4 linked regions of the Homo sapiens genome follow. The protein of the gene in region 1 interacts with the protein of each later gene in a pairwise test. Each region holds a gene or a part of one and is shown on either strand. Other genes may lie near its edges.

Evidence for each region. Proteins that work in one complex are often made in the same cells at the same time.
Region 2: the proteins of TNKS (region 1) and ADPRS interact in binary tests that used the Homo sapiens proteins (3 or more experiments, as listed by UniProt).
Region 3: the proteins of TNKS (region 1) and OARD1 interact in binary tests that used the Homo sapiens proteins (3 or more experiments, as listed by UniProt).
Region 4: the proteins of TNKS (region 1) and SH3BP5 interact in a two-hybrid assay, tested with the Homo sapiens proteins (2 studies listed by BioGRID and IntAct).

The regions. Positions count from the first base shown.
Region 1 is NC_000008.11:9,751,412-9,757,317, forward strand, and holds part of TNKS (poly [ADP-ribose] polymerase tankyrase-1), read left to right. Parts: intron 1-197; coding exon 198-435; intron 436-1,132; coding exon 1,133-1,215; intron 1,216-5,906.
Region 2 is NC_000001.11:36,091,676-36,094,432, forward strand, and holds the end of ADPRS (ADP-ribosylhydrolase ARH3), read left to right. Parts: coding exon 1-150; intron 151-234; coding exon 235-419; intron 420-746; coding exon 747-847; intron 848-1,421; coding exon 1,422-1,711; 3' UTR 1,712-2,257; downstream 2,258-2,757. UniProt on the Homo sapiens protein: ADP-ribosylhydrolase that preferentially hydrolyzes the scissile alpha-O-linkage attached to the anomeric C1'' position of ADP-ribose and acts on different substrates, such as proteins ADP-ribosylated on serine and threonine, free poly(ADP-ribose) and O-acetyl-ADP-D-ribose.
Region 3 is NC_000006.12:41,066,815-41,069,572, forward strand, and holds part of OARD1 (ADP-ribose glycohydrolase OARD1), read right to left. Parts: intron 2,140-2,758; coding exon 2,027-2,139; intron 624-2,026; coding exon 521-623; 3' UTR 1-520. UniProt on the Homo sapiens protein: ADP-ribose glycohydrolase that hydrolyzes ADP-ribose and acts on different substrates, such as proteins ADP-ribosylated on glutamate and O-acetyl-ADP-D-ribose.
Region 4 is NC_000003.12:15,322,587-15,326,302, reverse strand, and holds part of SH3BP5 (SH3 domain-binding protein 5), read left to right. Parts: intron 1-3,716. UniProt on the Homo sapiens protein: Functions as a guanine nucleotide exchange factor (GEF) with specificity for RAB11A and RAB25. Inhibits the auto- and transphosphorylation activity of BTK. Plays a negative regulatory role in BTK-related cytoplasmic signaling in B-cells.

The DNA.
Region 1 (5,906 bases):
AGTTTCTCCAATTCTGTCTACTGAAACTATTGAAACTCTTTGGAGCTGTGGATAGGAGAAGGAATGATCAAAAACCAGTAGGTGATAATGAGGCATTCATTAAGGAAAAAATCCACAAAGTATTTGGTTATCAGTGAAAAACTTACCATTTTAATATATAGTATTTTCATGGTTTTTGTTTTTAATCATTTTTTTAGGCTGACGATATCAGAGCTTTGCTGATAGATGCCATGCCCCCAGAGGCCTTACCTACCTGTTTTAAACCTCAGGCTACTGTAGTGAGTGCCTCTCTGATCTCACCAGCATCCACCCCCTCCTGCCTCTCGGCTGCCAGCAGCATAGACAACCTCACTGGCCCTTTAGCAGAGTTGGCCGTAGGAGGAGCCTCCAATGCAGGGGATGGCGCCGCGGGAACAGAAAGGAAGGAAGGAGAAGGTGAGTAGACCCCATGAATGCTTATTTATTTATACCTTTTGTTAGTGGAGCAGAATGACTTTTTTCTATTGATAACTATTGAATGCCTCAATTAGAGACGTCCTGTCTGTAAATTTTCATACACACAACATCTTACAAGAAATATTTCTTCATAGAAGGCTGCCACGTTTCTTGGCATTGTCGTTGTTCTTATTTCTGTATATTCTAGAGCATCTGTTTACAACCATAGCATCTTATTGAACCACTTATACTGAAATTGTGTCAGAACACAACTGAGAGGTCATTTCAGGAATGAAAACTAAAATGATAGCTGATACATTTAGATTTTTTAATTCATTAAAAGCTTTAGATGTTTCTATATAAGTAGCATTCTGTAGTATAAGAATTATACTATAATGTTAAAATTAGTATAATATTCTCTATATTTTTATAAATTACAATAAGTTATAATTCTATATTCTAACCATAATATTAGAATACAAATACTAATTTGATAAAGATAAAACACTCTGTTTTTACTTCCCAATCAACTTCAGAAATAAAGTGTCTAAATTAAATCTGTGTATTCTGTATTATTTTATGCCATGGAAAATCATCTGACAGCCAAGGTTGTCAGAGTCATGTCTAAATGGATACTGAAATTTTCTTTATATTTAGAGAATTCTTTCTGAGAATCTTTAATATGTTTCTGTTTTAGTTGCTGGTCTTGACATGAATATCAGCCAATTTCTAAAAAGCCTTGGCCTTGAACACCTTCGGGATATCTTTGAAACAGAACAGGTAAATACTCTTGTATATATTTGAGTCATTTAAATTAAATACTAAGATTAGGCTGGATGCAGTGGTTCACACCTTACTCCCAACACTTTGGAATGCTTCGGCAGGATTGCTTGAGCCCAGGAGTTTGAGACCAGCCTGGGCAACAAAGCGAGACCCCCATCTCTACAAAAAAAAAAGTTTTTAAGTTAGCTGAGCATGGTGACTTACTGGGCCCCTGTAGTGCTAGCTGCTGGGAAGCTGAAGCAGGAAGATCATGTGAGCCCAGGAGTTTGAAACTGCAGTGAGCTGTGATTGTGCCACTGCATTCTAGCTTTGGCGACAAAACAAAACCCTATCTCGAAAAAAAAAAAAAAAAGAAAGACTTATTAATTGCCACCCACCTCTTCCTCTTTTGCTTCTTACGAGCTATTCTTAAACCCACAACACATTTCTATAAGAAGCCAGAGGAGCCCAGTATTTTATACTTCTCCCCAAAATTGTCTAACAAATGAGTCTTTATTTTATCTTTATAAGCAGTCTAGCACTATGCATTTTATTACATGTCAAAACTTAGACCATGCAACTACCTCAAAAGAATGTTTTCATGATTGTCCTTGGTTGTTTGTTTCCGAAAAATGTCAGTCTTTATTCATCTCATTTCATTATTCATGTGACTAGGCTCCTGAAGCAGTTGCCCATTAATTTGGAAAGCACAGTAGTACTTAGACAACTGCACTTTTAAAAAATTGCCCCTTTATGAAGTTTCTGTTGTCCACTTGGAGTCTTAAATAATATTAAACCAAAAGTTGGCCATACATTCCAATAGACCCACCCTATTTTGGGATCCATCTTAAATGTCTGTGAAGGTCTAAGGATGGAGTCATCATTAGGGCATTTATGAATTAGGATTCTTCTGTTTGTTTTACTGTTTTCATACAGGATAAGGAGTTGTAATATTGTATGCTTTCATTATTATGATCAGCTTTAAATATTGAATGATGGTAACTCCTGAATTTAAATGGACTATTGATATACATGAAATTTAAGAATGGGAAAGGTGTTTAGAGAAAAATTATTCTCCCAGGTGTAGGGATCACCCTTGTATAATAACACCCATGTTAGTCCTCCAGCCAAGGAAGATATCTTGTTACAATTTGGGACAGGTGTAATAGAATGCTTGTAACTTAAAGTGTGCCAAAATCTGCCCGTAGGTATAATTCCTTTGTTTTCAGCTTACGCTTACGCTTACCCTGTTTTGCACAGAGATCTAATCTCCAGTCTACATATGTATTCAGTTTCAGAGGACTATACTCCCTACAGAGGCTGTAGGGGAGAATCTATTCCATGCCTCTTCCTGCTTCTGATGGTTGGCAGCTTCCTTGGCTTGTGGCCATGCTACTCCAGTCTCTGCATCCATCTTCACATTGCCTTCCTGTCCTCTCTATCTCTTCTAAGGACATTTGCATTGAATTTGAGGCCACCAGTATAATCCTGGGTGATCTCCTCATCTCTAGACCCTTAACATAATTTCGTCTGCAGACACTTTTCTTCCAAGGAAGGTGACATTCACAGGTTCTGGGGATTAGAACATAGACGTATCATTTTGAGGGCCACCATTCAGCCCACTACAACATAATATGGCCCTAGATATCTTTTTAAGACCTAGTCAACTTATCAGAGGTGTCACCCTTTCAATCACCCACCTCTACACATCTTCCCCTATTTTAGAATAAATCTGTTTTTTCAATTATTCTTTATATGACATAATTTTCCAGTATTTCACTGGCACCTTTGGCCCATTATGGTTCCCTTCTAGGCTTATAGTCAGTTTGGAGTTAACTTAAAAACCAGGTCTTTTTTCTTATTTATATCAATTATACTGTTAAGATTTTTTTTCTGCTTTCTCTCTTTTTTTTAGCTACATTTTTTCATTATAGTTCATCTTTAATGCTCTTAATGATAAGAACAGCCGAGTAGGGATAGCACTGGACTAAAAGAAGACCTTAATTCTAATTATTTTTACCCTCTTACTAGCTGTGTAAAATTGGGCTGAATGACATTTATCCTATCACTTCCTTTACCTGTAAAACCTAATGCTTATAAATGTTCAGAGAGTTAAAATCCTCAGTAATATTGTGCTGCTGTGTCAGCTTTTAATACAGTGATGCATCACAGGTGCCTTTGCGTCTAATGGTTAGGACTTTATAGACTGCTGTCTATAAAATCATTTTCTTTTCCAACCATTTATTCATCCTCTGGTTTGGAGCTTTCTTAGGACAATATCCTAAATAGTAAGACTGCTTCATCCTTATTCCCTAACTGAAGGTGTGAAAGCTGATTTAAAACCATTATACTCTGCTGTTCCCATATTACAGCTATAGCTGTTCTTCCCAAATCATTTCCACAATAATTGTAAAATTTCAAACACATCTTTGCTAAATAAACCAAAGACCTTAACTCAAACAAATAATTCCAATTTACTGATGAAAGTTTTCTAAAGAATGTTCATTTTTCTTCTTTTAGTCAGTTTGCATTATAATTTTATGTGTTCTTTTTAAATTTATATCGTATATTCGCATTGTCAGTAACTGACTTCCTGTGGCGTATTTATCACATTTTATTGATTTGAATAGTTTAATAGTTTAGTCTCCTAGTCACTCCTTCTGACAGCTTGTCCTGGTTTCATCAGTTTCATTGTTCTTTTTTTACTGCAGTTTCATTCTGAGTAAATGGTTCCATTGGTTTTCTTTTAGCCAGAATAATTTCTATAGCCTTTTATTGATCAATACATAGACGATTGCATTTAATGTATATTACCAAGCACAGTTCTTTCCCTCCAGACAGGTGATACTACCTTTCTTTGTATTGAACTGTGTCTGGCCCAATCATCAAGCAATCAAATTTATTTTTATTTTAATTGCAAATGTTATTTATCTAGCCTTCCATTATAAATAAATTTGATAACCTTTTCCATAACTTTAACCCTTAGCATTTTCTCCCATTAACATTCTATATCAGTAATATGTGATGATGGTCAATGTATTTGTATAGTCGGGGAGGAGTGAGGGTGCATGCATTGAACGCATTTAATTCATATCTGTTTGGCTTAAGCCAGGGGAGCCGTTGTTTTCTGATGCTCTTTGACATGCTTCTATGTCTCATTGCCTGTGTTCCTACTCATGGATGCCAGTGGGGTGTGGAATGTAGTTATTTTATTTCTGGTCCCAGAAGAAAACCTTCGGCACATCATAGCCTCACCTCCTATCTTCACAGTTACTCTCTTGGAAGTCTCTAAACTAAATTGTCCTGTTTCCCATAGATACTTTGCCAAGTTCTATGTTGAATAATATAGTATCCTTTCTAGTTAATGAAATATAGTACCCATGTGACTTTGGCCCTTCCTTTATAACATAGCTTTGTACCTATGAACATAGGTAGGAACACTTTTTATATGGGAAAGACAGATTTTATTTACACTGCAATTCCTAGAACATAAATGCTATCACTTGGAAGACTGCTTGTGGACATTTTTATGGTTAACCTATGTATTTTCATGGAAAGTGACCAGATAAATTTTGATTTCAAATTCTTGAAGACAAAAGCATGGCCTCCCATAATTCATTGTGAACTTGATTATAAAGTTAGTTCTTATTACTCCTGCTGTACCATACAACCTTTTAAGCCCAAGCAAGAGGACGTCTTTTTCATTAAAACTAGTTTTCTCTCCCCACCCAAAGTAAAATGACTCTCAGAAGCTAGAGGTAGCTCTTTTTGCAGTGACCTTTGCTTTATGTGCAAGATGACTTTAACTGACACGTGGATAATCTTTATTCTTAGTAATTTTATTTTAATGTATACTAGATAGAAATAACTAGCCCAACAAGCTTGTGATTTCCTCAGTATAATAACTAAGTCAAGGTTTTAAAAAAGGAGCAAGTTAATTTAAATATGATTTTCAGAAAAAAAAATGTCTAACAGCTGATAGGGGTATATATAAAATTCCTGAGTCTTGAAGCAACATGTCTAAAATCCAACTAACCTGCTTTCCATCCAGATATTTCTATTTCTTTTGTTGATGCAAAAGTCTCATAGTTACCCAGCTACAGAATTTTGGAATAATCTTACTTTCATTCCTTTTATTTTAACCATTTCTATTTACCAGGCCCTGTAAATACAGTTCTCCAGTTGCTTTCAGATTCATCCCTTCCATGCCATTTTATCTTCTTCTTATTCCCAGTTGCCTTCCCTTCCAAATCTGCCCTTCATAATGCCAACAGTCTCATCCTCCTAAAATACAACTTTGATCATATTACTCTGCTGAAAAGACTTCCCAGGGCCTTTGGTATACTTTTTTTGTTTTTGTTTGTTTTTTTTTGTTTGTTTGTTTTTGAGATGGAGTCTAGCTCTGTTGCCCAGGCTGGAGTGCAGTGGCGTGATCTCAGCTCACTGCAACCTCCGCCTCCCAGGTTCACACGATTCTCTTGCCTCAGCCTCCTGAGTAGCTGGGATTACAGGCATAGGCCACCATACCCGGCTAATTTTTGTATTTTTAGTAGAGATGGGGTTTCACCATGTTGGTCAGGCTGGTCTCAAACTCCTGACCCCGTGATCTGCCCGCCTTGGCCTCCCAAAGTGCTGAGATTACAGGCATGAGCCACCACACCTGGCCAGCCTCTGGTATACTTCTAAGCCTCTTAGTTTGATAGATAAGG
Region 2 (2,757 bases), on another chromosome or scaffold:
GTCTTCAAGAAGCTCCTGAACCCCAAATGTCGCGATGTCTTTGAGCCTGCCCGGGCCCAGTTTAACGGGAAAGGCTCCTATGGCAATGGAGGTGCCATGCGGGTGGCTGGCATCTCCCTGGCCTATAGCAGTGTCCAGGATGTGCAGAAGGTATTCAGGGCGGGCTGGCTTCTGGGCTGTCCCCTTCCTCTTCTGCAGCAGGGCTTCTGTGACAGCAGGTCTCCTCCTCCCTAGTTTGCCCGGCTCTCGGCCCAGCTGACACACGCCTCCTCCCTGGGTTACAATGGCGCCATCCTGCAGGCCCTGGCTGTGCACCTGGCCTTGCAGGGCGAGTCTTCCAGCGAGCACTTTCTCAAGCAACTCCTGGGCCACATGGAGGATCTGGAGGGTGATGCCCAGTCCGTCTTGGATGCCAGGGAGTGAGTATGGGGCTGGAGGTGTGTGGTGTGGGTATGTGGGTGATCCAGGGGGCCTCTGGCATTGCCGCAAACTGTAAACCTTCCTCAATTGCAGACCCTAGGGAGGCATGGGCAGAAGCCCCTTTATCTTGTCTATGTTTCAAGGCTCTCAGGGTCCCAGAGAACGAAACGACCTGCTCACCCCAGCCCTCTCCCACCTCTTGTCGGCACCTGTGCCTGGCTGCCAGCCTGACCACATCCCTGCTCGTTCTCACATGCAGCCCTCTCCCCTGCCCGCGCCACCACCCTGCTAGCTCTGACCTCCCTGAAATCTCCCCTAAACCACAGGTTGGGCATGGAGGAGCGTCCATACTCCAGCCGCCTGAAGAAGATTGGAGAGCTTCTAGACCAGGCATCGGTGACCAGGGAGGAAGTGGTGTCTGAGCTAGGTGAGTGGGTCTGCCTGGGATTGTCTCTCCCTCTGTCGTCCTTCAGGGTCGGTCTTGGGCTCAGGGGAGCATGGAGTCATGCCTGCCGTCGCATTGTACCCTGGGCTGCTGTGACACGGAGTCAATGGCAGGGTTGAGCTCAGCGCTTCTTGCTCTGAAGCTACAGCACCCTCAGCCTTGTGGACCAGTGTCCCCAGAAATGGCAGCTGGCCACTAGTCGTAAAAATGTTGATAATGGATTTTATTTGTCTAGCATCTATACTGGGCGTTGTGCAGAATGCTTCACAGACACGATCTCGCTTCATCCTCACAACAGCCCTGTCAGAGAGTTGCTAACGTTACTCCCTGTCTGCTTAAGGAGTTGAATCTGGGAGCAGGAAGCTTAGCGGTCCCCTAGGTAACTCTCCCAGTCACGCAGCCAGTGTGTGGTGGAGCCAGGATTTGAGCCCAGGTGGTCTAACTGTAGAGCCTGAGATCTTAGTCACAGCCTGCTTGAAGCCGAGAGTGCTGACTTGTGTCAAATGGTAGGAGGCCTGGGGAAGCATGCAGCCCCTCTAACCTGGCTTCCCCACAGGGAATGGCATTGCTGCCTTTGAGTCGGTACCCACCGCCATCTACTGCTTCCTACGCTGCATGGAGCCAGACCCTGAGATCCCTTCTGCCTTCAATAGCCTCCAAAGGACTCTCATTTATTCCATCTCACTTGGTGGGGACACAGACACCATTGCCACCATGGCTGGGGCCATTGCTGGTGCCTACTATGGGATGGATCAGGTGCCAGAGAGCTGGCAGCAAAGCTGTGAAGGCTACGAGGAGACAGACATCCTGGCCCAAAGCCTGCACCGTGTCTTCCAGAAGAGTTGATGAGGGCTACAGCTGTTGGGGCTCTGCCAGGTCCCCTGGGACCAACTACAGCTCCAATCAGAAACCCTGCGCTTCCTTGAGTGTGGCTTCCCACTTTTCCTGCATTGTGGAGCTGACTGAGTACACCGGTGAGGCTGGGGTCTCTGCAGGGGAGGTCACTGGAACAGCGAGCAAGGGACTGGTGCCTCGCTGGTGCTGGGTCTCTGGTTTGCTGCAGAGCCGTAGGACACTCCTGGCTCCTCAGTAGGACAGACAGACGCAGGCGGGTTTATTTTGGAGGGGTACTTGTGGCATTTTCCTGTATTGTCTTGGACATGGGATGTGGGGAGGTGGAAATGATGAGCAGTAGCATCATTTCTCCCTGTTGGGTTTTAGCCAGTTTGCCAGCAAGCGCATCCTAGCAGGGTCCCCGAGCAGCAGGTTGTGTGGATGAAGGGACAGGCACTTGCATCCAGCTGATCTAGGTCACACCTGGCTCTTGGCTGCCATGTGGCTTATTAACAGCTTCCAGTGGAAGTCGCAATAAACAGTTTTTGGTAAATCTCACCACTGTTTCTTGTTTCTCCTGCCCTGAATGGATTCTCCCCTGCCAGCCTGATCTCTGAAGACTAGTGCCTTTGTCTGTGCTGCACTGTCATAGAAGCTGGGGCCCCAAGGCCATGAGCTGCTGTGTTGCCAGGCACTCCAGCTGGCTGCGTGTTCAGCCAGGAAGGGCACAGCAGGCATGGTCTGGTGGCTTTTCCTGTTAGAGATCACTCAAAGTGGCCCAGGCTGCTGGGCCGAGTGCTTTGCCAGAGGCAGCGGGTAGGAACAAGCCAGATTTTTCTGTTCTCAGAGCCTGACTTCCCCAAACAGGAGCTAGGCCCAGCTGGGCCAGGAACAGGAACCCTGTAGAAGGATCCAGAGGGCCCTGCTATCATCAGACTACCAACCTTTGGGTGGGGAGGGCACCATCACGGGGCCCCGGGTGGACTGAGTGCCGTGTGCCTCCTCCTGTATCTTGGGACCAATCAAAAGCCTTTCCCTGCAAGGAAGTTTTACACAGC
Region 3 (2,758 bases), on another chromosome or scaffold:
CCATTTTTATCACCACAAATTTCTTGGTAACAATGTAGAATTTAATTTTGTAATTAAAACAAAAACTCTCCCCTAGGAGGAATCTGATGACATAAGGATAACACCAAGTTATGTGCACAAACGACAAAAAATGCCAAACTAACTGGAATGATCATCCTTCCTGAAATTTCTCTTAAAAAGCAGAGAAGTAGAACCAATGCTGCCACCTAGTGGCCAGCCAAACAAATCAGGTAGCATACTGGAGAAAAAGGTCATAGTCCCGACAATCTGGTTTCCCTGCCTATTATCAAGCCACCTAACTCCTTACTTTTCCACAAAAAAACACAACCACATATCTTAAGCAAGCCCTCCTCCACAGTCATAATCCAAATACTTGAATACAGCAACCAAAGTCTGTCTTGTTAAACACACTACTTCTCATGAAACTTTCCTCTGCCTATTTTAAGGTAGGTTTGCCCGGTCCTATGGCCCAGTAGAGATGACACAGGAGAACACGGAAACATCCAAAATGTTCACTGGTTCAGAGTGTGTACACAGTAATTTTGATGTCTGTTGCCTCAAATACCTCCTCGATCATCGCAGATACATTTTCCCATTGCAGACGATCAAGACCACATCCAATCCTGAAAAAGACAAAATATCTCCATTGATGGTAACGAAAGTATCTAGGAAACTGCTCCTCTCTTTTAAGCTATATCCACTCAAAGCATAAAAACAAATAATCTAGTCTGACACCCTTATGGGCAACCATGGTAGGAGTTTGGAAGTCAATTCTTGTTGTGAGTCACCGAAGACCATTCCTAGACAGCTCTAACATCCAAAAACTATCACTTCTGTTTGCCTAATAAGATACTACTTTCCAACTATTTCATGCTACATTTAGAAATGTGTAACTGTCATGACATTAGAGACTCATTATCCCTCTATGACTACTGACTAAAATTGGCTGTGGATGGATGGTGAAAGGTTGGTATTTTAAAAATGCACTTATGGTAACAGAATGTTAACGAAAGTAAGGAGAAGAGGAATGAGGTACAGGATCTGCAAAAAAGAAAGTCAAGAGGGAATGCTGGGAAATGGTAAGATAGTTGCAATCCAGGAGTAAGGTCTTTGCAACACCCTGGTAAGAATAAACTCAGTCCATAAAACTCTACTACTTGGCACCTTCCAAGATGTTACTCTAGTGATCCTCAACACGCCTAGGGAAAAAAGAGACCTAAAATTGGTAATTTCATGTCATAATGTGATAATTAAGTCCATAAGGAATTGTGATTAAAAAAAAAGTTTCTGATATGTATGTACACCATAAATATATCAAAGACCAGTGTAAAATAAGGGACATTTGAGGCCATATGCAAAGTAATGTGGGGCGCAAGATAAAACTGCATGTATGCTCAGCATTGACTCAAAACTACCAGGGTGACAGGAAGAAAAGAGGTGAGGCCCATTTCCTGAAAAGAAAGCAAAGGGACTACTGAACCCTCAATGTCATTCCCTAAATTCCCAATAGCTAAAGTCTAAGAAGTTACATCAGGGACAGATCCTCTGGCTATTACCCATACTGACCAAAACAAGTGTGCAGTATAAAAGGGAATGATAATTTACAACTTTCTTGACGCAAAGTAATAGGTTTGGGAGATGGGAAGTGGTCCAAGAGGAAAACCACCATTGCTCAGTCTTGATTCTTTAGCTTACATTGCTTTAGGAATAAAGGCCAAGCTTCAAGCAGAGGGTGCTGAGAATTCAACAAATGTAGCTGAATGACAATGGTCGCTCTCTGCTAAGCAGGCTGAGGCAGATGTATATTTCAAGGTAATTGTCCTGATTCATTCAACTCAAGCTAGAAAATGGCTGTGCCTTAGTCTAAAGCCAGACAACTGGTTCACTGGTGGTTTTACAAAATTTTGACTTTTGTCCACCTTTAAATCTATATTTTGGGTTAAGCTTTTAAGTTGTTTGTCTTTGGGTAAGATAGTAAACCCCACCAATCAATTAAATCTCCATTTAGGACCATGGATTTCCTTGCCTGGGCATGGAGAGGTCAGTGACTCCATTCTTCAGACAATGAGACTTCATTGCCTCTAAACTCTTCTGTAAGTTTTCATAAGTTGGCTTGTGCGAAGCCCTTTTCTTTGTAATCTGAACACAAAGGATTCAAACTTTCATCATCCCAAAATGATAGCCAAAGAAAAGTCATCACATTCCCCCAACATCCCAATAATTAAAAGAGTAAGCACATTTTTATAGAATTAGTCTAGAGCAAGGATGACAAATGTCATATTGCCCTTTCCACACTGTTATGGGAGACCTTCAAGAAAATCCACTAAATAGAGGCTGAGAAACCCAGACTCTGCCACGTAGCAATCTTTCCTTTTCCTAGGAAACCCATGAGATTAGCAGATGATGCCTATTGTCAATATTTTTAAGCAAGGTAGGTGAAGTCTCTGTGCCACTTCCAAGAGATAAGCTGCATATCTCTAACAGGGAAGAAAGCATACCACCTGAAAATTCCCTGCTAAAAGCCTCTACTTATTTAGAAACTGTGCTTGCTTGCTTTTTGTCTCTCTACATAAAACAACAGAAAAAACTGGTAGGGTCCCAAAGTAAAACCACTGGAAGCCACATAAGCTTTAAGGACAGAATTCAAAGGGGCTAGGACATCTCCCCACTCAGTTTGTCATCCAGATCAGGCTTGTAGTGGGTTAGCTGTAAGCTACCCACCACCACCACTAAGGAAGCCACACCCTTTCAGGGACCA
Region 4 (3,716 bases), on another chromosome or scaffold:
GCCATTTAAATTCCAGATTGCAAAAGGGCCTCTGGATGCCAGCCATCTGCCGTGTCACTTGGATGTCTGTCTCTTCCTGCAACCTGGGTTTGCCTCTGACCTTATTTGAACAGTGCTGGGTCCCCTTTGCATGCTGATTTATATCAGCAAAAGCCAACCTTTTCAAGCTGTAAAAGGAGGAACCTTTTAACCAGAGAGCCCTTGGATATAAGCCTGATGTTTTAAGTTAGGAAAATAAGCATTTTCCCACAGATCCATTGATCAGTCAGCTTTATTTATTTATTGAGACAGGGTCTTGCTCTGTCACTCAGGCTGGAGTGCAGTGTCACAATCTCGGCTCACTGCAGCCTCAGCCTCCCGGGTTCAAGCGATTCTCCAGCTTCAGCCTCCCAAGTAGCCAGGACCAAAGGCTCACACCACCACGCTGGCTAATTTTTGTATTTTTAGGAAAGATGGGTTTTGCAATGTTGGCCAGGCCGGTTTCAAACTCTGGAGCTGAGAGCGATCTGCCTCCCTTGGCCTCACAAAATGCTGGGATTACAGGTGTGAGCCACTGCGCCTGACCAGCTTTTTAATTCACTAAGTATTTATTGAGCACCTACTACGTGATGGGGGCAATTTTCGGTGATGGGGACAGAGCAGTGAAGAGAATGGACAGAAGTCCCTGCTTTTCTGAGGCTTACATTGCAGAGGGGGTGGAAAACGCAATAAAAAGTTAAAATACACATGGTAGGTTATCTGATGTATACAAAGGAGGCAAAGAGCTGGAAGGGGACTCAGCTGGTGGGTGTTTGGAGGCAAGGGGAGGGAGAGGAATGCAGTATTGTCTGGAGAGAGTGAGCAAGCCTCAGGCCATGTGGGGGAAGAACATTCCAGCTGGAGGGCGCATCAGGGCTAAGCCTGGCTTAGCTGAGGGCCAGCAAGGGGGCCTTGTGCCAGGCATGGGCGAGTAATGGATGGAAGAGGAGGCAGTGAGTCAGAGATAAATGGGTCATTCAGGTGTGCGACAGCCCTGCTAGGTGAGATAGTAAAACTCAATATGCTGATGTAATTTTTAAATGCCTATTTTATAGGTCTGTCTCTTTTCAAATGTTTGTTAAAACAGAAGCCACACTGAGAATTTCTAAGTCTAATCAGAATAAAGATTTGTAATATTTTATGCCCATGTTTATGTGGTTTTAAGCACAATTTGTAATGTTTTCATCATTTCCCGTGCTTGCTCTGAAAGTGGGCTGTTCCAGGGCTGTGAAGGGGTCCGTCCTTTTCCTCATTGCTCAGGTCAGGTGGGAATAGTTTCTGCTTATACTTGCAGGGTGGTTTGAAAAATCTTTGTTTCTGAGTATCTGTGTTCCTCAAACATGCTTAAGCCAGCACTCATTATCTCTGCCTTTCCTCCCTCTGAAAACCAGCAAATGTTTTCTCTTAAAACTTTTTTTTTTTTTTTTTGGACCCAAGGAGCAATGGTACAAACAAAAACTCTGTTTTGAGCTTAGAAACTTGGAGGTGAGAGTAAACTGGAAGCTGCCCGGCCCCTCCCTCATGAATTATTAGCACAAATCAGGAGAAAAATTCCTCTATCAAAGGACAGTGATACGTCCCAGCACTTTCTCCATTAAAACGTGTGGGTGGAATGCACTAGGGACTAGGTCCTGTAAGACTCAGTTGTGCTTCGAAGAAACTGCTAGGGAATGTTTGAAGCATAGATAGACCGGGGGAGGGAGGAGTAACTGTTTCTTGAAGCTGCACCAGATTCCAGGCCTGGTGGCAGGCTGCCCGGTCTAAGCTGGCAGAGCCCCTACACCCCTGACCTTCTTGTACACAGGTGAGATCTGGTTGAAGTAAACATTGGCCTGGAGGCCTTCCTGCAGCAAATCCTGTGTGGGGCACTGGGGACCAGGGTGGTCAACAAATAATCAGGCACGTCCCTGCCTCATGGAGCTTGCCGTCTCCTGGATTCAAGCAAGCAATTGTAGTGGGGTGAGGGGGATTCTAGGAGAGTCACTCAGGGCCCTTTGAGAGGCCAAAGCTTTGTTGAAATAGGGGGCATCAGAGTTGAGGCCTGCAGACCCCAGATAGTCTGAAGAGATAACATCAGCCTTAAAGTGGAGGAGGAAGAGAGCTGACGGTACAGACATTGTCTGCAGGTTGAGGAAGGTTGGGGTGGGGAGAGGTGGAGTGTTAACAGGACCTTTGGTGATTGGTTGATTATAAAGAAAAAACACATGTGTGGTCTTTGCGTCTCTTCAGGGTAGCCTGAGCCAGGGCTGCTGCACTGCCCCCATAGCTCTGACTTGAAGTTTGGCCATCAGAATGGTGGTACTGAAGGCCTTGGGCTTCAGTGGTCCCCCCATACTGCTTATTTCCCTTTGGGGAAGTAGGTGAGTGGAGAAACATTTGAAACTTGTAGAGTGACTTAGCTATAGGACAGCCGGCAAAGCTTGGCCTCTGGAGCCAGACCGCCTGGCATTGAATCCCAGCTCCCTCTTCATAGCTGTGGGACCTCTGGCAGATTATGTAATTTCTGTGCCTCAATTTCTTCTTCTTTAAAATGGGATTGTGTCTCAGTTTTTGCTGTGAAATAACCAAAACCCAAAGCCGTGGGGAAGGGCAGGTGGAGGGAAGACAGCTGTCTTGACATCAGGTGATACAGGCTGAAATCAGAGGTCTGCTGACTTCTAGGGATACTTGGCACATGGAAGCCTCAGTCTCTTTGTCTTTGAATCTGGGGGCTGCAATTCTTGCCTACATCCCTGGGTAGCCTGGAGGATGGTAAGGGATGCTGTGTGAGAGAGTGCTTTGAGAGCTGCCCAGCCTGAGTGGACAAGAGGGCCCCCTGTGTGCTTGGCTGGCAGGGAGGGCTGAGACCCGCTGGGCGCTGCAAACAGAGAAGGTTCCAATGAGATGTCCACTGGGGCCAAACTGGCCATGGGGCCTGGCAGTGGCTCTGTTGTTCTCTTCCCCCAGGTCCTGCCATGACCTTTCTTTGTCAGATTGGCACTGGGAAGGGGGTCAGAGGGAGGGCTCATACAGGCCAGGATTACAGCGGGATGGACTTTGTAGTCACTGGATCAGCAGGGCGTTGCGCTGTGGCCTGCCTGCTGTAATGTGAAAATTAGTTTCCCTGAGTGAGCCCTGCTTTATTTATTTATTTATTTATTTATTTATTTATTTATTTGAGACAGGGTCTCAAAAACCGGAGTGCAATGATGTGATCTCTGCCACTGCAACCACTGCCTCCCAGGTTCAAGCGATTTTCGTGCCTTAGCCTCCCGAGTAGCTGGGATTACAGGCATGTGCCACCACACCCGGCTAATTTTTGTGTTTTTGGTAGAGACCGGGTTTTGCCATGTTGGTCAGGCTGGTCAACTCCTGACCTCAAATGATTCGCCTACTGCAGCCTCCCAAAGTGCTAGTATTACAGGCGTGAGCTACTGCGCCCGGCCTCCCGCTTTGTTTTTGTTTTTTCCTGAGACAGTGTTGGTCTCTGTTGCCCAGGGTAGGGTGCAGTGGCACAATCATAGCTCCCTGGAGCCTCGAACTCCTGGGCTCAAGTGATCCTCCCACCTCAGTCTCCCAAGTAGCTGGGACTACAGGAGTGCGCCACCACGCCTGGCTAATTTTTGTTTTTGTAGAGATGGGGTCTCTCCTTGTTGCCCAGGCTGGTCTCAAACTCCTGGGCTCAAGCAGTCCTCCTGCCTCGGCTTCCCAAAGTGTTG